2 linked regions of the Homo sapiens genome follow. The protein of the gene in region 2 interacts with the protein of the main gene of each other region in a pairwise test. Each region holds a gene or a part of one and is shown on either strand. Other genes may lie near its edges. The genes, in order: TMPRSS4 and RASGRP4.

What was found.
Region 1: the proteins of RASGRP4 (region 2) and TMPRSS4 interact in binary tests that used the Homo sapiens proteins (3 or more experiments, as listed by UniProt).

What each region holds. Positions count from the first base shown.
Region 1 is NC_000011.10:118,106,796-118,117,781, forward strand, and holds part of TMPRSS4 (transmembrane protease serine 4), read left to right. Parts: intron 1-978; coding exon 979-1,080; intron 1,081-2,060; coding exon 2,061-2,101; intron 2,102-3,256; coding exon of another isoform or gene 3,257-3,438; exon of another isoform or gene 3,439-3,602; intron 3,603-4,945; coding exon 4,946-5,105; intron 5,106-6,473; coding exon 6,474-6,640; intron 6,641-7,127; coding exon of another isoform or gene 7,128-7,255; exon of another isoform or gene 7,256-7,270; intron 7,271-8,033; coding exon 8,034-8,132; intron 8,133-8,342; coding exon 8,343-8,485; intron 8,486-10,509; coding exon 10,510-10,659; intron 10,660-10,986. UniProt on the Homo sapiens protein: Plasma membrane-anchored serine protease that directly induces processing of pro-uPA/PLAU into the active form through proteolytic activity.
Region 2 is NC_000019.10:38,414,290-38,425,275, forward strand, and holds part of RASGRP4 (RAS guanyl-releasing protein 4), read right to left. Parts: intron 7,865-10,986; coding exon 7,680-7,864; intron 6,912-7,679; coding exon 6,806-6,911; intron 6,682-6,805; coding exon 6,619-6,681; intron 5,974-6,618; coding exon 5,842-5,973; intron 5,725-5,841; coding exon 5,571-5,724; intron 4,276-5,570; coding exon 4,102-4,275; intron 2,880-4,101; coding exon 2,763-2,879; intron 835-2,762; coding exon 559-834; intron 1-558.

The sequences.
Region 1 (10,986 bases), on a different chromosome or scaffold from region 2:
TTATAGAGGGGGAAACTGAGGCTTGGAGAGACCCAGAAAAAGAATATGACCTGCCCAAGGCCACACATCAAACTAGTGCCAGAGCCAGGGACAGAACCTAGATCATGAGGACTCTTAAAATGCACTCTAGTCCTCCCAGGTCTGAGACTTGGGTCCTTCCAGGAAGTGCCAGCATTCCTGCCTGAGAATGTGCCAATCCACCAGTATTGCCAATGACTCAGCCCTCCATGGAGAGCTTCTACTAACATTACTAGCATAGTTAGGGATGGAAGGAAAAGATTTAGAAGAGGCAGATTCAGTAAAGGAACAATCAGAGAGATGGAATTAATCAAGGAAGGCTTCCTGGAGGAGGAAAAACTTCAACCCAAGGTTTGAAAGTAGCAAGCATGGATTAGCAGGGAGAAAGAGGGAGAGTGGTCCAGTTGAGAGAAACGTTTGTCTGGATTCATATGAAGACAGATCTAGTCCTGTTCTATTAAATATCTCTAAGGGGGCCAAAAACATACCCCCGCTATCAAAGTCAGACCAGATGCTTTGTTTGGAGAACGAAATATCCACATTCCAACTCCCTCCCAGGTGAGAAGGGAGCTAACCTGAGCCCCTATGCCTCTTTGTTTCCCTGCTGTGAACCAGAAGACATTGCTGGGATATTTGAAATAGGGACAGAGCTGGGAATATGGAAAGGAGACCCCTAACATTTCTCCAGGGCTCTGGGTTCTGGATTTGGATTCCCCACCCAAGAAAGCAAGTTACATCAGCAATGCACTGAGGGTTGAGTCCTGGGATGCCAAGGGTCGGTTCTTTATTGTATAGCAAAGCAGGCCCCATCTTCACTGACTAAGACCATCTCCACTCCCTGGCCACTCCCCACCAAGCATTCTCTGCCACTCTTTCTCCTGAAAGTGGGGGCCAACTCTACCATCTTGTTCTAACCCCCTGCCCCAGCTCACAACTCTCTCTCCCTCTTGATGTGAGCAGCAAACCCACTTTCAGAGCTGTGGAGATTGGCCCAGACCAGGATCTGGATGTTGTTGAAATCACAGAAAACAGCCAGGAGCTTCGCATGCGGAACTCAAGTGGGTAAGTGAGGGGACACCTTCTGGCCTACAGAAGGCCCCCACATGGACGCTGCTCTTCAGGTTGCAACCAGCTCACCTGGAACCCCAAGCAGCCAGGGGAATGTAAGCAGACATCAGGAAGAACTCCTAGCCAGATGGATCATTCAATGCCAAGAGCTATAGACTCACATTTTGGAGAGGTTTTCTGTGTTGACTTGTTTTTAATACAATGGACAGCTGGACAAAGTGTGTTGTCCTACTCAGAGCCAGAGGGATGGATAATGTGACCTTTCCATCAATCTGGATAGTAAATAGTTTTTGCTACTGCTGTAGGTTTTCTAATAAATTGCCCAATAGGCAAGATTCCAAAGTCACTTTGTCCTTCCCTACCACTTACCCAGCCAGAGCTCCCCACCTTCTTGATGCTCCAGGGAAGAGGCTCCATGGCCCTTGTGGGTGGCCTGTTCCTGAGCCTCGCCACCCTGTGTTAGAGCAGAGCATCCAGATGAAATCTGTCACACTGTGGCAAAGTGGCTCAGAGAGGAGGCTGGCTTCCTAGCATTCAGGGACGTTGCTGAGGGCCGCTTATTCACCGAAAATAAATCTTGAAAAGGACAGGGCTGGTAGCAGAATGATCCTTTACCTAAAATTCTATCAAAATCCCATTCTTCCATTTGGAAAGCCCACAGTGTCACAGACTCTGTTCCGGGCTCTGTCCTCTTCCCTCTTGGGTCCCAGGAGCCCAGGCTGGGCTTTGAAGCAGGCAGGGCCCAGCACACAGTAGGTACTCAGCAGTGGGGGTGTTGAATCCAATCAAACGGAAGTGTCAATGCAGGAAATGCAATGGATGTCAATGCAGTCTCCAAATGTTCCCCACTGTGCAGCTTCCACATTCCCGAGGTATTGGGAGGGGACTTGAATTAACAGCTTCGGGAGGCCTGAGTCCCTGCCTCCCAGCTGAGGAAGAAGCTTAAATCACAGGGCGCTGTGTCTGTCTTCCAGGCCCTGTCTCTCAGGCTCCCTGGTCTCCCTGCACTGTCTTGGTGAGTACCCCCAATCTCTGAGGGTTTGGGGCCTGGGCCAGCAATGAGCAGGGAGGAAGACCTTCATCTTCACTCCTAAATTTCTGGGACTCCAAGTTTCATTCTGCCTTGGTCTACAGCCCTTGGGCTTGTCGGTCAATGCCCCCTCGAGTTGTTGGTGGCCTTGGGCAGGTCACATTCTTTTTCTGGGTCTTTCCAAGCCCCAGTTTCCCCCTTCTACCATCTGTGCATGGCTCCATGACCTAAGTGGAGACCTGGGAGAGAGTGTTAGGAAGACCGAAAAGGGCAGGACGGGGCCTCCACTGCCTCCCATCCCTGGTCCGGGCCCACATAGCCTTCTTTGTCACAATCAGCTCAGGTATCCAAGATCAGATTACCCACATTCATTATTTGAGCAACTATTCATTGAACAGTTAGAATATGTCTCACTCTGTCAGTTGCTGGCTAGAAGTAGAAAGTACCAGATGAGTGAAATAATTGGCCACTATCCTTGGTAGCTGATGACTAAGTAAGAGAGAGATGCAAGACAACATGTGGAAAATGCCAAACTGAGTAGCAGTCACAGTTGACATGCTGCAGAGAGAGCTGGCCGGGGGTCAGAAGACCTGGGCACCAGTCCTGTTCATTTCCAGTGTGGCCTCGAGTCATTCACCTGACCTCCCTGAAGTTCATTTTCCCAAGAAGTTGTTTAGTCCAACTGCCCATCAAGGATCTTTAGGGACCCTTCTAGCTCTAACAGAGGAGATCAGAAAAGAAAACAAGCAATGTGGCTCAGCTCATCCTACAAGCTTCATAGAGAACTGAGACTGGCCTGGAAGCATAGCCAGAAATTAGAACGCCTAAGGGAAGAAGGTCACAACGCTGCCTCTGCAATTTAGGAGTGTATATGCTTTCCTGCAGGATGTTGAGAGTTTCATTCATTATCGTATGCCCCCTACCCCGGCCCCACAATACCTAGTGCGTGGGATCTGACACGTGGTGGCTGGTCAATGAATGAATGAATGAATGGTCACACCATCTGAGGTTCTGCACTGAGTAGCCCTGAAGGCTTGAAGCAGCATAAGTGACAGGTCCTCCCTTGAGGGGCCTCTGTTTTACCAATAAGCCAAGACCTAAGCTCAACAACACTGAAAGGGTGGCCAATACCCAGGACAGCCTGTGGGAATTCCAGAGAAAGGGAGATTCCCAGGGACTGGGGGCCCAGGCTAAACACTGAAAAATGCATCTGTAGGCTCAAGGAGGAAAAGCCCATGTCTGTCTGTCTTGCCCACCACTCTCTCCCAGCACCCAGCACTGCCCCAGGACAGAGAGCACTTGACACAAGTTGGTTAGATTAATGAATGATTTAGAGTTCAGTGGTCCCCAACCTTTTTGGCACAAGAGACTGGTTGCATGGAAGACAATTTTTCCGCAAACCAAGAGGGGGATAGAGAGCATTAGATTCTCTCTTTTTTTTTTTTTTGAGACCAAGTCTGGCTCTTGTCACTCAGCCTGGAGTAAAGTGTTGCGATCTCGGCTCACTGCAACCTCCGCCTCCTGGATTCAAGCGATTCTCCTGCCTCAGCCCCCTAAATAGCTGGGATTACAGGCACCCGTCACCAGCCCAGCTGGGACTATAGGCATGTGCCACCATGCCCGGCTAATTTTTGTATTTTTAGTAGAGACGGCGTTTCACCATGTTGGCCAGGCTAGTCTCGAACTCCTGACCTCAGGTGATCTGCCCGCCTGAGCCTCCCAAAGTGCTGGGATTACAGGCATGAGCTGCCTCACCCAGCCTAAAGTCTCATAAGGAACGTACAGCATAGATCCCTCACATGTGCAGTTCACAATAAGGTTGTGCTCCTACAAGAATCTAACGCCACCTCTGATCTGACAGGAGGTGAAGCTCAGGTGGTCATGCTCGCTTGTCCCTGCCACTCACTTCCTAATGTACAGCCAGGTTCCTAACAGGCCACGAACCAGTGGGAAGGGCATCTTTTTGGATCAAAAACAGAATTACTTTTTAGAGAACTACAAGCAGATCAATTTGGCTAGACAGAGACTTTATATGAAACAGCAGGAGGCTGCTAGGAGGAGTGGAAACTCTACTTTGCCCTCAAGGGAGATCCCGAAGGGCTTTGCAGGAGCGGGCAAGGTGGCATGAAGAAAGCAGTGTTTGAAATCAGGTGGTATTTGAAAAGCCCAGCCCTTCCCCTTAGAATGGCCCTTCTACCATCTGTGCATGGCTCCACAACCGTGGTGGTGGCTGCCAGAAGAATTGGAAAGGCAGAGCATGGGTGGAGAGGGGGGACCTGAGGGCTTTACAGGAGTTCCGGGGGTGGTGAGGGTGTGAAAGCCAGGTCAGTCAGTAGGAAGACAGGATGTCAGATTGAGAGACTCCCCTGGCCGGGGAAACAGACTTGGAGAAGGGGGAGTTTTGGATGAGACAGTCCACTTCCGAGTCACAAAATAGCTTGTGGGTGTCTGTTTACTGTTACTCAGTGGGAGTGGCTGGGGACACGCCACCTGGGCAGGGCTTTCGTAATTCTGCATCACTTGTGAAGGTCACAGATTCCCAGCACAACGGACACACCCATGTTCATAGTCTGAACTCCTAAACACATCTTAAACCAAAATAAAAAAAAAAGAAAGAAAGAAAGAAAAAGGAGAGGGAGGTTTGAGGAAAGCCTATGGTCTGGGACACTCAATACCTCCCATGAATATCTCATATTGGGCTGGTCCTCTCTCCACTCTGGCCCCAGCCATAAGGGCCCTGCTTAGAGCAGATTTTGGGTGCTGAGTGGAGGCAGCCTCATCCCCAACAGCCTGACTTCCTGCCTCCTCCCTGCCTCTGCCTGTGTCCAGCCTGTGGGAAGAGCCTGAAGACCCCCCGTGTGGTGGGTGTGGAGGAGGCCTCTGTGGATTCTTGGCCTTGGCAGGTCAGCATCCAGTACGACAAACAGCACGTCTGTGGAGGGAGCATCCTGGACCCCCACTGGGTCCTCACGGCAGCCCACTGCTTCAGGTAAGACCCCAGCTGTAAGGAGGTCTCTGGGGACCAAGGCCAGTCAGGGACCAGAGAGCTTGGGGTCCTGTCTCCTGGCACCGTCCTTCTCTTCACTCTCCCACTAGAGACGTTTTCCAGGTTGTGGTGGCCCCAATGAGACAATGGCCATGATGCCCTTTGTTAGGCTTTTGGGTGTCTGAGCAGAGGGTGCTGGTCACCAAGCATGGCCTCTTCCTGGTGGGACACCAGCAGATACCCAGAGTCCTCACCCCACCCCCATATCGTTCAAGCTACAAAAGCTCTTCCCACCTGCCTCAACTTCCAAGAACTCACTCTCTTTTTGCTTGTTTCCAGGAAGTTGTTCCAGGGTCTAGAGTCATAGCCACGTCCTCATTATGTCTGGAAACTTTAAAAAAATTAAAGAGCATAGGTTCCTTTCAGTCCACAGAGAAGCCTGGCCTTACCTCAGGGAAGGGCTACTCCCAGACCCCCTTCACTTTTTTTTTTTTTTTTTTTTTTTTTTTTTTTGAGACAGAGTCTTGCTCTGTTGCTTAGGCTGGAGCGCAGCAGCATGATCTTGGCTCACTGCAACCTCCGCCTCCTGAGTTCAAGCAATTCTCCTGCCTCAGCTTCCCAAGTAGCTGGGACTATAGGCATGGGCCACCATGCCCGGCTAATTTTTGTATTTTTGGTAGAGACAGGGTTTCACCATGTTGGCCAGGCTGATCTCTAACTCCTGACCTCAAGTGATCTGCCCACCTCAGCCTCCCAAACTGCTGGGATTACAGGCATGAGCCAGGGCATCCGGCTTTTATTTATTCATTCATTCAATATCTAATGAGCACCTACCAGGTACCAAACACCAGATGATGCGCCCAAGTTCATTAGACCCCACCGCTGTCTTCAAGGCACTCATGATCTAGGCCAGCGTTTTTTAACCACTTTTTTTTTTTTTTTTTTTGAGATTCTGGTGAGAGCTATAAATTCTTTCCTGGAAAAACATCTCTGCACACTAAGCTGTGCCTGGCATTGGGAAAAAGAAAGCACGTAATGTAACTGACAGCATGAGTAACACAGTGAGAAAGGTTGGAGGAGAGAGCGCCAGGACCTCAGAACTCAGGCATTAGAGGAGCCCCTTCCCCAGCCCTCCTTGAGGTTTCGTTGGGCAGGTTTCACTGAGGAAAAAGGGTCAAATCCCTTTTTCGAATTTGACTTCTTGTAAGTGCCAGAAGACTGCCCCTTCTCCACCATCCCTGCCTCACCATCATCTTTCCTCCCAAGGCAGTGACATCCAGCACCCCGATCCCTAGGGCCCTGGGGACCCAGCCTTTGGCAAAGTCTCCTCAGGCTTGGATCAGGCCTGAACCCAGCTGTCTCTACCCCCAGGAAACATACCGATGTGTTCAACTGGAAGGTGCGGGCAGGCTCAGACAAACTGGGCAGCTTCCCATCCCTGGCTGTGGCCAAGATCATCATCATTGAATTCAACCCCATGTACCCCAAAGACAATGACATCGCCCTCATGAAGCTGCAGTTCCCACTCACTTTCTCAGGTGAGAAGCAGGGCCCAAGGCCACTCAAGCCTCTTACATCAGTTTTCACGCCCACTCTGCTATTAGCTCACTGACCGCCCTTGGCACATAATGTCTCCTCTCAAGTCCTCAGCTTGCCCATTTGTCTCTAATACGTCAGCCTAACATCACTGATGCCATGAGGCCTCCTCAAGCTGTCAGCTAACACCTCCACTCCATTCCCTGCCAGAGATTCTTCCAAGGCCTGTCTTCCCTATGTGGAGCCCCTCGAGTGAGAACTGGAGTTTCATCCAATCTTGGAGTTTTAGGAGACCTTTTAAAAAGATTATCGAGCTAATTCCCCACCACTGACCAACACGCAAGAGCCTGCTCAGTATCCCTGCCAAGGAGTCATTGTGCCCCTGTTTGCTCTCCTCCAGGGGCAGGGAACCCATTACCTGTGAGGCAGCCCACAGAGTCTTTGAACAGCTCTGTTGGATGCCTTGTGCTTATACTGAAATGTATTTAGATCAGGATTCCCAACTGTGGGGTCCACAAGACACTGGCCCCTTGGAGAAGAGAGGATTCCATTGTCAAATAAGTTTGGGGAACATTTTCATACTACAGCTCCCTTCTTGGAACACATTAGTTTATTAAAGGTAGGAGAAGTTTTTAAAATAATCTGTTTTATTGCGTTTAACCTACATTTTTTAAATTTATTTGACCACAGAATCCTTTTTTCATGCTACTTCTATTAGCATCCCATAGAACAAGTGTTCTAGAGACCCTGGTGTGACCCCTTTCAGAGAGCTTAACTGCCAGGCTCTCCTGAGCCCTGGTGTGTGTTTCAAGATTTGTGCCTGGGAATTGTTTTAATCAGGTATGGCAAGGTGACAGATACAGACACAGCTATCTTTGAAAGAAGAGTTTATTATTTATAATTCCTGAGAGAAAGGGACATACCCCACCCCCCAACACAGGGACACCCGGGGAAGCAGCTGGGTCCACCAGGAGGCAGGAGTGAGGGGAAGGCATGGCCCAGAGCCACCTGTGGCTTCCATGGGCAGGTCTGGCCAAGGTAGGGTAGGCAAGATTGAGCATGCTCAGGATTGGATAGTGTGGACAATTCTCTAGGCTATAGATGTCAGCCTCTGGTTGTCTAGTATCTGTCCCTGGGGTGATTTAGGGCAGGGAAAATATTGGCTTGGTGTCTGAGAGTCAGATAAAGGAAGTGGTTGGGGATATGGGCTTTGGGTTGGCTGGTTTGCCTATTAAAGGCGTGCCCAAAGCCAAGTTGTTTACTATCTGCAGGAATTAGCTAACCCAGTCTCTCCCAGACCAGCAAGATCCCCATAATCATAAAGCATCATAATTTACAGAAAATTAACACTTATGATGAATAAAAGATCTCCTTCTTCCTCTGTGCTCCTGGCAGGCACAGTCAGGCCCATCTGTCTGCCCTTCTTTGATGAGGAGCTCACTCCAGCCACCCCACTCTGGATCATTGGATGGGGCTTTACGAAGCAGAATGGAGGTAAGTCCTGGGTGCAGGACCACAGGGCAGGAGATGCCCTTGTATGAGGGAGCAGCTTCCAGAAGTAATGGGAAGGAGGACCACCCTTCAGAGAAACCCATCCTGGAGGACCAAGCACCAAGGCGCCAGGCAGAAAGCAAAGTGGTTTGGCAATCCAGGGCTGGGGGATAGAAGGCAAGGATGGGAATGTGAGTGTTTTTACCCTCCCAGGGAAGATGTCTGACATACTGCTGCAGGCGTCAGTCCAGGTCATTGACAGCACACGGTGCAATGCAGACGATGCGTACCAGGGGGAAGTCACCGAGAAGATGATGTGTGCAGGCATCCCGGAAGGGGGTGTGGACACCTGCCAGGTGGGGCCTCCAAGAATCATGGGGAGTTCTAAGAATAGGGTTTAGGTCCTAGAGAGATGAGAAAACCCAGAGGCTGCATGCCCTACAGGAAGCCTTGCATATCATGGGCACTCAATGTGTGATGATGGGAGGAAGAGAGGGAGGGAAGGAAAGGATAGTCAGATAAAAGTGTACCAATAGATGAGTGGGTGGATGGATGGATGCAGACAAGCAGAGAGATTTCAAATGTCTCTTTCACATTCGAAGATGATGTTACTGGCCTGGCATGGTGGCTCACGCTTGTAATCCCAGCACTTTGGGAGGCTGAGGCGGGCAGGTGATTTGAGGTCAGGAATTCAAGACCAGCCTGGCCAACATGGTGAAATCCCATCTCTACTAAAAAGAATACAAAAATTAGCTGGGCGTGGTGGCACGTGCCTGTAATCCCAGCTACTTGGGAGGCTGAGGCAGGAGAATTGCTTGAACCCAGGAGGCAGAGGTTGCAGTAAGCTGAGATTGCGCCACTGCACTCCAGCCTGGGTGACCCAGCAAGACTCCATCTGAAAACAACAACAACAACAAAGATGACATTACTCATCCACCCCACCCACCCTTCTCACTAGCTACAGAATGATTAGCCCCTTGAGGTCAGGAATCCCAGGTCTATTTTCTCTGTGACTCTCCCCAAGCTGCTGAACTACACTAGGAAAGAATTACCGCCTGCAGAATGCTGGAAGCACATCTGTGTGTGCCCTCACCCCGGCCTCATTGGCCATCAGGACTGCTTAGCAATCCCTGTAGACCTTCTTCCTCCCCCATACTTCCAGAGGATCTTCTGAACTATTTTCTTTTTTTATTTTTTCTTTTATGTTTTTTAACAGAGACAGGGTCACTATGTTGCCCAGTCTGGTCTCAAACTCCTGGGTTCAAGGGATTCTCCCACCTCAGCTTTCCAAAATGCTGGGATTACAGGCATGAGCCATCGTGCTTGGCCTGAACCATTTTCATTAAAACCCCTACCCTACTCTCACCTCCATTTCCAGTCATTAAATTCCTTCATTTAAGAGGCATCTCTTAGTCATCGCATGTGTGCCATGAACATGGTAGTCTTTGGAGACCCCTCAGGGAGCTCACAGTGGTTGGGGGAAAGGGGGGCATTAAACAGACATTTAAGCTATAGTTTTGGGTTCAGAGGGAGGAAGCCCCAGGGGCTAAAACAGCTGATAAGGACTCCCAGATAAGTGCACTTTTCACTATCTGGCATTTTCTTGTTTTGTTATTTGCTTGTTCACTGTCTCTCACCCCATTTGATCCTAAGCTTTCTGAGGGCAGGGATCTTTGTTTTTTTTCATCAGTTGGATCCCAATTGCTTAGAACACTACCTGGCACAAAATAGGCACTCTATAAGTGATTACACAAATTTTGGAACGACTAGGTTAAACAATGATAACCAGGCTTTTTTTTTTTTTTTTGAGACTGAGTCTCACTCTGTTGCCCAGGCTAGAGTGAAGTGGTTTGATCTCGGCTCACTGCAGCCTCCGCCTCTGGGTTCGAATGATTCTCCACCTCAGCCTCCTGAGTAGCTGGGATTACAGGTGCCTGCCACTATGCCCAGCTAATTTTTGTATTTGTAGTAGAGACGGGTTTCACCATGTTGGCCAGGCTGGTCTTGAACTCCTGACCTCAAGTGATTCACCCGCCTCAGCCTCCCAAGGTGCTGGGATTACAGGTGTGAGCCACCGCTCCTGGCCAACAACCAGGCTTTTTTAAGACATCACTCAGAGCCTTTAATTTGCTAATGTGAGTTGTGAATCTCTGAGAGAAGGCTAACGGCATGCTTGCAACTTACTTGTCCACAGACAAGCCTTTCTGCCCCAGAAGAGAAGACCATTCTAGGGTGCTAATGAGCAAAGAGGGTGAGGGTGGAATATCGGAGAGCAGCAGGGAGTGCAGGGGAACAGATAGGCCAGTTCAGGGAGCAGAGAAGGAGAAGCCCCCCCACCTCACCTGCCCTCCCCAGCAGTCTCTGTTCTGGTCTCTCACAGGGTGACAGTGGTGGGCCCCTGATGTACCAATCTGACCAGTGGCATGTGGTGGGCATCGTTAGTTGGGGCTATGGCTGCGGGGGCCCGAGCACCCCAGGAGTATACACCAAGGTCTCAGCCTATCTCAACTGGATCTACAATGTCTGGAAGGTAAGGTACCTTTGCCCTACCCACTGTGCCTTCCCTCCAGTCCTCTACCTGGGGGGTGCCAATCCATCCTCAGGTTTGATTTAAATGGTTCTGACAACTCTTTACATCCCAAATAACTTTCCCTCCAAGCAAGGGACAGCCTGAGATTGCACTATTAAGGCTGAAATTCCTTAGGTCAGAGATTTCTGATAAATGCAAATACCTTAGGGAATAGAACACACCAAGCCTTTCTTTCTCTTTTCTGACAGAATGAGACTATCAGATCCTTTCTAGAGAGAAGATTCTGATAAGGAAGAGAGTGGAAAGGCTCATGAGACCTCCTGGCCC
Region 2 (10,986 bases):
AGTGGGTCCTTTTATTTTATTTTATTTTTATTTATTTATTTATTTTGAGAAGGAGTTTCGCTCTTCTTGCCCAGGCTGGGGTGCAATGGCGCAATGGCGCAATCTCAGCTCACTGCAACCTCCACCTCCCGGGTTCAAGCAATTCTCCTGCCTCAGCCTCCCAAGTAGCTGGGATTACAGGCACGCACCACCACTCCTGGCTAATTTTGTATTTTTAGTAGAGACGGGGTTTCTCCATGTTGGTCAGGCTGGTCTCGAACTCCTGACCTCAGGTGATCTGCCCACCTCAGCGTCCCAAAGTGTTGGGATCACAGGCGTGAGCCACTGCGCCCGGCTGGGTCCTTTTATTATTCCCATTTTGTGGATAAGGAAACTGAGGCTTAAGGGTTCAGTGACTTGCCCAAGATCACGCAGCTAGAAAAAAACCTAGAAGTTCTGGCTTCAAAACCCATGCACTCCAGCACTTTTCTATCCTGGTCCTGGAGACACTCACACACCCAGGACCCTATATCTCAGTACCCTTGGAAGCCCAGCCTGGGCGGGGCCAGGGGGGCTCACCGTGAGCAGGTGCAGCAGATCCTCATTGGCGCTGCAGGGTGGATGCTGCCCTTGGAGGGCCACCAGCTCCTGCAGCCGCAGGTAGAGGTTGTTCAGCTTGGGTAGGTGCAGGCGGCCGTCAGGCAACCTGTCGGGCTGTGCCTCATGCAGGGACACCAGGTCCTTGAGGTGCACGCCCAGTACAGGCAGCCGGAAACCCGCGCAGCCAGCCCAGGTGCGGCGGTAGCGGGCGTAGTTGTTGTGGGAGGCAAGGAGCTCAGTGAGCTCCAGGAGGGCCTGGGGAGGAGGGACATGGGATTGGGGCGTTATCAGGACAGTCCCATCCCCTGAGCAGCCTCCTGTGTGGGCTCTAGGCCTTCAGGGACCCAGTGGCATTGTGGAAACCTCTGGAGCCCTTCCATATCCCATGCCGGTCTCAGCATCTCCCCCAAACTGCTCTTCCTCTTGGGTCCCCATCTCAGAGAAGTTCCACAATCCCCCATTCTTTGGCTAAAATGATTTCTTTTATCTTTCTTTCTTTTTGATTTTTTTTTTTTTTTTTTTGAGATGGAGTTTTGCTGTCTTGCCCAGGCTAGAGTGCAGTGGCGTGATCTCGGCTTACTGCCACCTCCACCTCCTGGGTTCAAGCGATTCTCCTGCCTCAGCCTCCCAAGAAGCTGGGATTACAGGCATTGAGCCACCACGCCAGGCTAATTTTGTATTTTTAGTAGAGACAGGGTTTTACCATGTTGGCCAGGCTGGTCTCAAACTCCTCACCTCAGGTGATCTGCCTGCCTCGGCCTCCCAAAGTGTTGGGATTACAGGCGTTAGCCATCAAGACCGGCCTTTTTATTTATTTATTTTTTAGGCTAGGGTCTCACTCTGTCACCCAGGCTGGAGTACAGTGTCATGATCACAGCTCATTGCAGCCTTAAACTCCTGAGCTTGATGGCTGGGCACGGTGGCTCACACCTGTAATCCCAGCATTTTGAGAGGCCGAGGCAGGCGGATCATCTGAGGTCAGGAGTTCGAGAACAGCCTGGGCAACATGGTAAAAACCTGTCTCTACTAAAAATACAAAAATTAACTGGGTCTGGTGGTGCAGGCCTGTAATCCCAGCTACTCGGGAGTCTGAGGCAGGCGAATCGCTTGAACCTGGGAGGTGGAGGCTTCAGTGAGCCAAGATTTCGACACTGTACTCCAGCCTGGGAGATAGAGTGAGACTCTGTCTCAAAAAACAACAATGAAAAGGCTGAGGGGGAGGCTCCAGCAGTCCTCCCCCTCAGCCTCCCAAGTAGCTGGGACTACAGGCATGGGCCACCATCCCTGGCTAATTTATTTTTAAATTTTTTTTCAGCCAGGCGCGGAGGCTCACACCTGTAATCCCAGCACTTTTGGAGGCCAAGGTGGGTGGATCGCCTTAGGTCAGGAGTTTGAGACCAGCCTGGCCAACATGGTAAAACCCTGTCTCTACTAAAAATACAAAATTAGCAGGGCATGGTGGTGCACCCCTGTAATCCCAGCTATTCGGGAGGCTGGGGCAGGAGAATTACCTGAATCCGGGAGGCAGAGGTTGCAGTGAGCCGAGATTGCACCACTGCACTCCAGCCTGGGCGACAAGAGCGAGACTCTGTCTCAAAAAAAAAAAAAAAAAAAAAAAAAAATTTCTGGAGATGGGGTCTCGCTATGTTGCCCAGGCTGGTCTGAAACACCTGGGCTAAAGTGATCCTCCAATCTTGGCCTCCCAAAACGCTGGGATTACAAGTGTGAGCCACACTGTACCCAGCCTATAATTATTTCTTAAAAACCCAGATTTTATCAAGGGTGTGTCATCACTCTCAAAACTTCCCTAGCTTAGCCCATCTTACAAGGCGCTATAGGATCTTCCCAGGGCATCTTCGGCTTAATTTCCTGCCACTTTCTGACCTCAGCCAGTCCTCCCCATGGGGACTGCAAAGTTCTCTGCTAGCCTGTCTCCCATCTGTCTCCCTCACAGTCCAGCTCCGGACCAGACACACTGAAAGCAGAGAGGGATCAGCACCATGAGTGGATGGATGACAGGGAGGAGGAATGCTGGCAGAGCCTGGGGGTCTGGGATTTGGAGGAGCAAGGACTTCATGTGGTACCAGGACCCCTGGGCAGGAATGGACAGGGCTTGGGGAATTAGGTGTGGGGGCTCAAGACAGCTGACCACTTGGAGCTTTGGGGAGGGTAGTGGGATTCACCTTGGTGCTGTCAGGGCTCAGGTGGGCATGGGAGTCCTTGAGTCTGGAGATGGCACTGTGACACAGGCCCCCTGTGACTGCCATCAGCGTGTTGAAATTCTGCAGCTGGTGGAGCCTCTAGGAAGAGAAGCATGCACACAGGGCCGTCACGGGAGGGAGGGCAAGTCAGGAGTTCAGATGACAGCATCCCAGTTGAGGTGGGGTCCCAGGCATGTGTGGACCAATGTGGGGATCAGACAGGTGAGAGAAGGCGGGTGTGTGCGGCAAGAGTGGGACATGCCATGTGTGGGCCTCACAGGGGTGTCAGATGGCTATCTGAGCCGGGAGGGTCAAGCAAGTGATTGACTGATACGAGGTTAGAAAATCTGGGGAGACAGGAAGTACGAGAAGTTGGGCGGATTTGGGGAATAGACAGGTGTGTGTCAGGTGGAGGAGGCTTCAGACATGTCAGGGTGTCAGCCATCTGGGGGTCTGACTGCTCTGAGAGTCACACAGGTGCGGGGAGGCAAGAAGGTGCAGGCTCTGGGCAGGAGCTGGGAGCCAGGCAGAGGTGAATAGGGCCAGAGAGATATGGAGGAGTCAGACAGATGCTAGACAGGTGTGGGGCCACCAGGGCAGCTGGGGAATTCCCTTGCCCTCCTTTTGACAAATTTCGGCAGAGGTTGCTGTGGAGAGAGTGGGGCCAGGGAGGAATGGAAAATGCTCAGACTAAGGACACCCCAGGCGGACGTCGAGACCCCCAGGTCTCAGGGGCCCTGCAGGAGTAAGCAAGCCAGGGAAGACACCAGAGGAAGGGCGTGGTCTGCGTGGAAATACGCAAGGGGGCGCGGCCACAGCGGGGCCGTAGGGCTTCCCTTTTCCCCAGAAGGGCGAGAAGGTGTCCGGAAAGGAGGGGGAAGGGAGGGGAAGAGAAGGGCGTAACACAATGGGGCGGGGCGGGGAGAGCCCGGACGCAATGGGGAGCGATGCACAATCCCGAAGCGACCGCTGGGGCCTGGGGACTGGGGATTGAAGCCTCGGGCTTCCATGCCCCACAAAGGTGGGGGCATGGAAGAGACACTCTCATTGACCTGGGGATAGAATATTCGGGCATAGGGCTTGGGAGCCTGTCACGTCTAGGGCCAAGGGGTGGGGCCACGGTGGGTGCGACGCGGTGACATCAAGGCCAAAGAAGAAGTTACGGTCCTTGGTTGGAATGCCCAGGCTGTGGCCTCGGGGGCGGGGCCGGGAGATGCGTGACGTCACCGCCGGGATGACCCTGTGGGGTCGAGGGTCTGGAAGGGGAAGGACCAGGTGGCTGCGTGCAGTGGAGTTCGCAGCCCCAAGGGGCGGGCCTCACCTGTGCCACGTGAATGAACTTGTCCAGCACCTGTGCACGCTGTAGGGGCCCGGGACGGCTCAGCACCATCACCTGCACCCAGCGGGACACGCTGTTGCTGAGACCTACGGAGCCCTCCAGGGCCGGGCAGCCTCGTACTGAGCCCTGCAAAACGTAGCTCCGCAGGTCCTGGGGCTGGGAGCGAGGTGGGTGTCAAGGTGGGCCGTGGCGCTCAGGCCCTGCCCTTCCATGGCATCCAACTAGCAGTCACGATCTCTGATGTCCTAGCCTGGTCTAGCCGGAGTGACCTTTGTCATCTGTCCCCCAACCCTCAGGCTGCTACATGTCCTTAACGTCACCATGCTCCTCTCCCATCTGAGGAGGCATGTTTCAATATAGCCAGGCACTATATTTGACAAGTAATCATATTAAATAATTTAATCCTCATAACTCTATGAGGTGAGTATCATTCCATTTTAGAGGTGAGACAGTTGAGGCACATAGAGGATAGGTAATTTGCCCAGGGTCACACAGGTGTGAGTCAGGGTGGGCGTCTATATGCTCTTAACTGTACACCTGACTGGTATACAGTAAGCAAAGGGAAGGCTGGGGAAGATGAATTGAAATCAACCTCTATCTGTTCTGCCCAAGGAGTGTTCATTTCATACCCACATCCACTACACTGAGTATATTTGCATACACACTCACACACACAACACACACATACAATCGGGACAGTTTCACATGAAGGAAACAGATCCCCACCTTCCCTTGAAATGATGATGTCCAGATGGCAAAAGCTAATGCATATATATGTTGAAGCACATGAAACTGATCCTTGGGTAGGTAATATATGACAATTTCAAATGGTTCAAGCAGATAGCATTTACCCTGGACCAGGCACTGTTCCTGCAAGGCAGGAACTGTGCATATCCCCTTTTTACAGATGAGGAAACTGAGGCACCATGAATTTAAATGCTTGTTGAATAAATGATAAAATATTTTGAGCACTTACTAAGTGCCAGTCGCTGCAATAAGCCTTTTATTTATTTATTTTACTTTTTTGTTGTTGTTGTTTTTCGAGACAGAATCTCGCTCTGTCGCCCAGGCTGGAGTGCAGTGGTGTGATCTCAGCTCACTGTAATCTCCGCCTCCTGAGGTTCAAGTGATTCTCCTGCCTCACCCTCCCAAGTAGCTGGGATTACAGGCATGCACCACCACACCTGGATAATTTTTGTATTTTTAGTAGAGATGGGGTTTCACCATGTTGGCCAGGCTGGTCTCAAACTCCTGACCTCAGGCGATCTGCCTGCCTTGGCCTCTTTAACTCATTTTCCTGGACCTTCTAGCATACAGGTTTGAGTTTAAGACTTTGAGATCTCTGCCGAATGACCATGCAGGTGTCCTCTCAGTCCTACCTTCCCCCAGCCAATCCCTCCCCTACCCCAGTGTCTCCCCTGCTTGGGACGGGGATGGGAGGGGGTCCTCACCGTGATAGCCTGGAAGGACCGGAACTCCAGGTAGGTGAGGTGCTGAGCCAGCTCCCCCGTCTCCAAGTGGTCGAAAAGCAAGGACACTTTGCGCTTTTTGCCCAGGCCTGGGCTGCTCATTGGGAGTGGGGGGCCAGGGCCACCAGGGCTCAGGCTGGGGGCCAAGAGGGGCAGGGTATTGGAGTGGCTCACAGTTGAGGGCTTGGGGATATAGAGGGAGATGGCAGAATGGCGATGGGGCAGGGAAGAGGGGAGCACAGGGCTGACTCACAGGTCAGAAGAGTCTCCCAGTCTTCTCTGGGCTGAGTTGCCCTCCCGGGCCACGGTGGCCCAGAAACGACCTATGACTTCTTCTAGCTGGGGATCCTGGTGCATCACCTCAGGGTGTCGCATCAGCCAGTACCTGAGAGTGGTTTGGAGATGGTGAGATGAGGCCGGGGGTGGCGAAGGTCTCTACAAGGGGTATTTTGGGCTGAGGAATTTCTAGGTGCTGAGCTAGGGGGTCTCTAAATGTGTGTGGGGGTCCCTGGAGGGTTGGGGTTTGGAGGGGCACCAGGCTTGGAGAATCTCTGGAGTAGGATGGGGGTCTCTTAACAGAGACTGGGGGGATCTGTGGGAAACAGACCGGGGAGTCACTTGGAAGTGGGATTATTGGGAAGCAAGATCGTGGAGCGTCCTAGGAACTAGACTGGGGGCTTCCGGGGGTGAAATTTTTGGAGGGACAGAATGAGGGGGTCTTATGGGCTAGGCTGGGGTCTGTGGGAGGTAGAGATTTTGGGGATCAGAGTTGGAGGTCTCTGGGCACCAGCTAGGAGGGTCTATGGGATCTGGTTGGTGAGGGGGGTCTCTAGGAAGTGGGGGTTCTAAGGAACGGAACTAAGAGGGTCTTAGGAACCAAGCTACAGGTGTCTCAGAAGTGGGATTTTGGCCTGTGGGGCTGGTTGGGTCTGTGGGAACTGGCCTGGGGATTCTCTGAGGAATGTTTTTTGAGGGGGAAGCAGGATGGAAGTCGTGGGTCCTGAGAGTGGGGATCTCGGCCCAGCCCTACCTGACCAGGTGACAGATCTGCAGCCGTCTCAGCTCCTGGGTGTCCCCTGTGGCCTTCTGGTATTTGAGTTCTGGTCAAGGCTCTGTTTTCCAGGATCCATGACCTGCCTGCTCCCCATTCCCATTGCCCAGGTTCTCACGACTCTGCCCTCTGCCCTCCACCCATAGCTCACAGTCCTGGAGGATATGAGGTCAGCAGGCGGGCAGCCAGGTCGGCGGACGGCAGCACCCAGCTGTGCATGGCCAGCACCATGTTGAGCATGTGGTCCTCGTGGCACAGGCTGCCAGCTGAATCTGGGGTGGAAGGAGGGGTACTCTGTGACAGAATGGCCCTCAAGCAATGCAGAGCGTAGCTCCAGATCCTGCCGGACCACCTGGTTCAAAGACCAGCTCTAACGGTGATCCCCAGCATGACCTTGGACAGGCAACCTAACCTCCTGTGCCTCAGTTTCCTTATCTGTATTGTGCATGGGGCAGCATCACCCCTGGCAAGTCTTGCTGAAGATTGAAATAGCACCAGACTGGCCGGGCACAGTGGCTCACACCTGTAATCCCAGCACTTTGGGAGGCTGAATCGGGCGGATCATATGAGGCCAGGAGTTCGGGACAAGTCTGGCCAACATGGTGAAACACCGTTTCTACTAAAAACACAAAAATTAGCTGGGCCTGGTGGCATGTGCCTGTAATCCTAGCTACTCGGGAAGCTGAGGCAGGAGAATCTCTTGAACCCAGGAGGTGGGGGTTGCAGTGAGCTGAGATCAGGCCACTGCACTCCAGCCTGGGTAACAGAGCGAGACTCTGTCTCAAAAGAAAAAGAAAAGAAAAGAAAAAAGATTTATATAAATATATATAATATACACATATATTATATATATATATAAATGTATATATTTCCATTTCAGGAAAGAAGAAATGCAGGTGTTTCTGTTATCTCTAATGTAGTGATTGAGTTTCATTCCACCCAGCCCTGTTCTCATTTTACCTCCAAAAACTGAGGTGGAGAGAAGCGAGTGCTGAGCCCGAGGTTAGGGCCAGGGAGGCTGCTGGGGAGAGGACACTTACCGAAGGACTGGATGCATTTCTCCAGCAGCTCATCTTCGCTGCAGCCGCCCTCACTCAGCAGGCCCAGGTTCATGGAAGCCATGACCTTGCTGATTTCCCGAGGGCTGGGGCATGTCTTGTGGCGGCGCACTTGGCGGGGCCGGCCTCGCCCTCCTATTTTTCCGGTGCATTCCTGGTGGGACTTCCTGTGGGCACAGCCCCCAAGGAGTCATGGGAGCACCTTCTTTCGGACAGACCCTAGAATTCCTTTTGACTCTAATGCCCCAAGGCACCACGGGAGAGGCTTCCTAAAGGCAAAGCCCCAGGGTTACCCCTGACCTACCAGGGACTCTAGAGAGAATCCCCAGGAATATTCCAGATCCCTGGGGGAATCATGGGAGCCCTCTCCCACAAGCAAACTCCCAGGGATATTCCTGCTCCCTTCAGGGAATCAGAGAGGAAGATCCTCAAGACCAGGGGTCCCCAGCCCCTGGGACACAGACAGGTACCAGTCCGTGGCCTGTTAGGAACCAGCGGGCAAGCAAGCACCCCCGCCTGAGCTCCACCTCCTGTCAGATCAGCTGGGGCATTAGACTCTCTTAGGAGCATGAACCCTATTGTGAACTTCACATGCGAGGGATCTAGGCTGCGTGCTGTTTATGATGCCTGATGATCTAGGCTGCGTGCTGTTTATGATGCCTGATGCCTAATGCCTGATGATCTGTCACTGTCTCTCATCACCCCCAGATGGGAGCATCCAGTTGCAGGAAAACAAGCTCAGGGCTCCCACTGATTCTCCATTATGGTGAGCTGCGTAACTATTTCATTATATATTACAATGTAATAATAATAAAAATAAAGCACAGGATACATGTAATTAACTTGAATCATCCCCACACCATCCCCACCCCCTTCCACAAAACTGGTCCCTGATGCCAAAAAGCCTGGGGACCGCCGCTCAGGACTGCTCTGAATCTCCCAGGGAATCACAGTAGAAGACCCCTGGGACCACTCAAGACCCCTCAGGGAATCATAAGAACTCCTTCCCCAGGCATTGCCCCCAACTTCCTCTTGACTGCTTCCAGGGCATCCTGGAAGAGACTTCCTTTTGGCAGATCCCAGGATTACTCCTGGCCTACCAGGGACTCGGGAGAAGACCCCTGGAATCTCTTCTGTCCTCCCCAGGCAGAGGCATGGGAGGACCTGCCTTCAGGAATTGCCTCCTCAGGGCTCCCGTTTGGTCTCTAACACCCTCCCCTCCTTCCTCCCACAGCCCTCAAGAGAGCAAGGCTCTTGGACCAGTGTGATGGCTCACGCCTGTAATCCCAAAGCTTTGGGAGGCCAAGGTGGGTGGATCACTTGAGGCCAGGAGTTCGAGACCACCCCGGCCAACATGGTGAAACCCCCATCGCTACTAAAAATGCAAAAATTGGTCAGGCGTGATGGCGGGCGCCTGTAATCCCAGCTACTCAGGAGGCTGAGGCAGGAGGGTCGCTTGAACCCAGGAGGTGGAGGCTGCAGTGAGCCGGAACTGCATCACTGTGCTCCAACCTGGGTGACAGAGTGATTTCTGTTTCAAAAATAATAATAAAAAAATTAAAAAGAGAGGCCAGTCACAGTGGCTCACGCCTGTAGTCCCAGCACTTTGGGAGGCTGAGGTGGGTGGATCACTTGAGGTCAGGAGTTCGAGACCAGCCTGGCCAACATGGTGAAACCCCATCTCTATTAAAAATACAAAAATTAGCCAGGCGTGGTGGTGGGCTCCTGTAATCCCAGCTACTCAGGAGGCTGAGGCAGAAGACTTGCTTGAACCCAGGAGGCGGAGGTTGCAGTGAGCCGAGATCGTGCCACTGCACTCCAGCCTGGGCAACAGAGCGAGTCTTAGTCTCAAAATAATAATAATAATAATAGTAATAATAGTAATAATAATTCTCCCTCTGCCTGGTGCCTCCCAGAGGCTGCTGTTCCTGATAGGGGAAGAGGGTAATGGAGAGACAAGGATGGTGGGAGCAGGGAGGCTGCTGAATCCAAGCTTCAGACGAAAGTAGAATCCAGAAATTTTTGCCAGCTGTTGTGACTTCGTGTTAGTCACTTAATTTCTCTGGGGCTCAATTTCCTCGAAGGAAAAATGAGGATAGTCCTTGGACCTTCTCCAGGGATTTCTTTTTTCTTTCTTTCTTTCTTTTTTTGGAGACAGGGTCTCACTCTGTCACCCAGGCTGGAGTGCAGTGGTGCGATCTCAGCTCACTGCAACCTCCACCTCCCGGGTTCAAGCAATTCTCCTGCCTCAGCCTCCCAAGTAGTTGGGACTACAGGCACGTGCCACCACGCCGAGCTAATTTTTGTATTTTTAGTAGAAATGGGGTTTCACCATGTTGGCCAGGCTGGTTTCAAACTCCTGGGCCCAACTGATCCTCCCACCTTTGCCTCTGAAAGTGCTGGGATTACAGGTGTGAGCCATCACGCCAGGCTCCCACCTCTACCCTTTTTCAGACAGGGTCTTGCTCTGTCTCCCAGGCTGGAGCACAGTTGTGCAATCAAAGCTCATTGTAACCTTGAACTCCTGGACTCGAGTGATCCTCCTGCCTTAGTCTCCCAGGTAGCTGGGACTACAGGTGTGCACGACCATACCCAGCTAATTTTGTGTGTGTGTTTGGGTGTGTGTCAATGGGGGGGGGGGTCTCACTATATTTCTCAGGCTGGTCTAGAACTCCTGGCTTCAAGTTCTCCTTGTCTTATCCTCCCAAAGTGCTGGGATTAGAGGCATGAGCCATCGTTACTAGAAGGGACATTTTAAAGTATTATATATGTCCTAGGCTAAGGAAGGAGCATTCTAACTAAGTCAGCATTTCCCTAAGTGTGGGCACCCAGCTAGTACCAAAAGCATCACCTGGGAACTGGATATCAATACAGATTCTCAGGTCCCAACCCAGACCTACAAAATCAAACACTTTAAGGCTAAGGGTGGTGGCTCATGCCTCTAATCCCAGCACTTTGGGAGGCCGAGGTGGGTGGATCACGAGGTCAAGAGATCGAGACCATCCTGCCCAACATGGTGAAACCCCATCTCTACTAAAAATACAAAAAAGTAGCTGGGTGTGGTGGTGCACACCTGTAGTCCCAGCTACTTGGGAGGCTGAGGCAGGATGATCGCTTGAACCCGGGAGGCAGAGGTTGCAGTGAGCCAAGATTGTGCCACTGCACTCCAGCCTGGCGGCAGAGCGAGACTCCGTCTCAAAAAAAAAAAACAAAAAAAAAAAAACCAAACACTTTAAAGGTAAGCCCAGCAACCTGTATTTTACAAGCCCTCCAGACAGTTCTGAGGCTC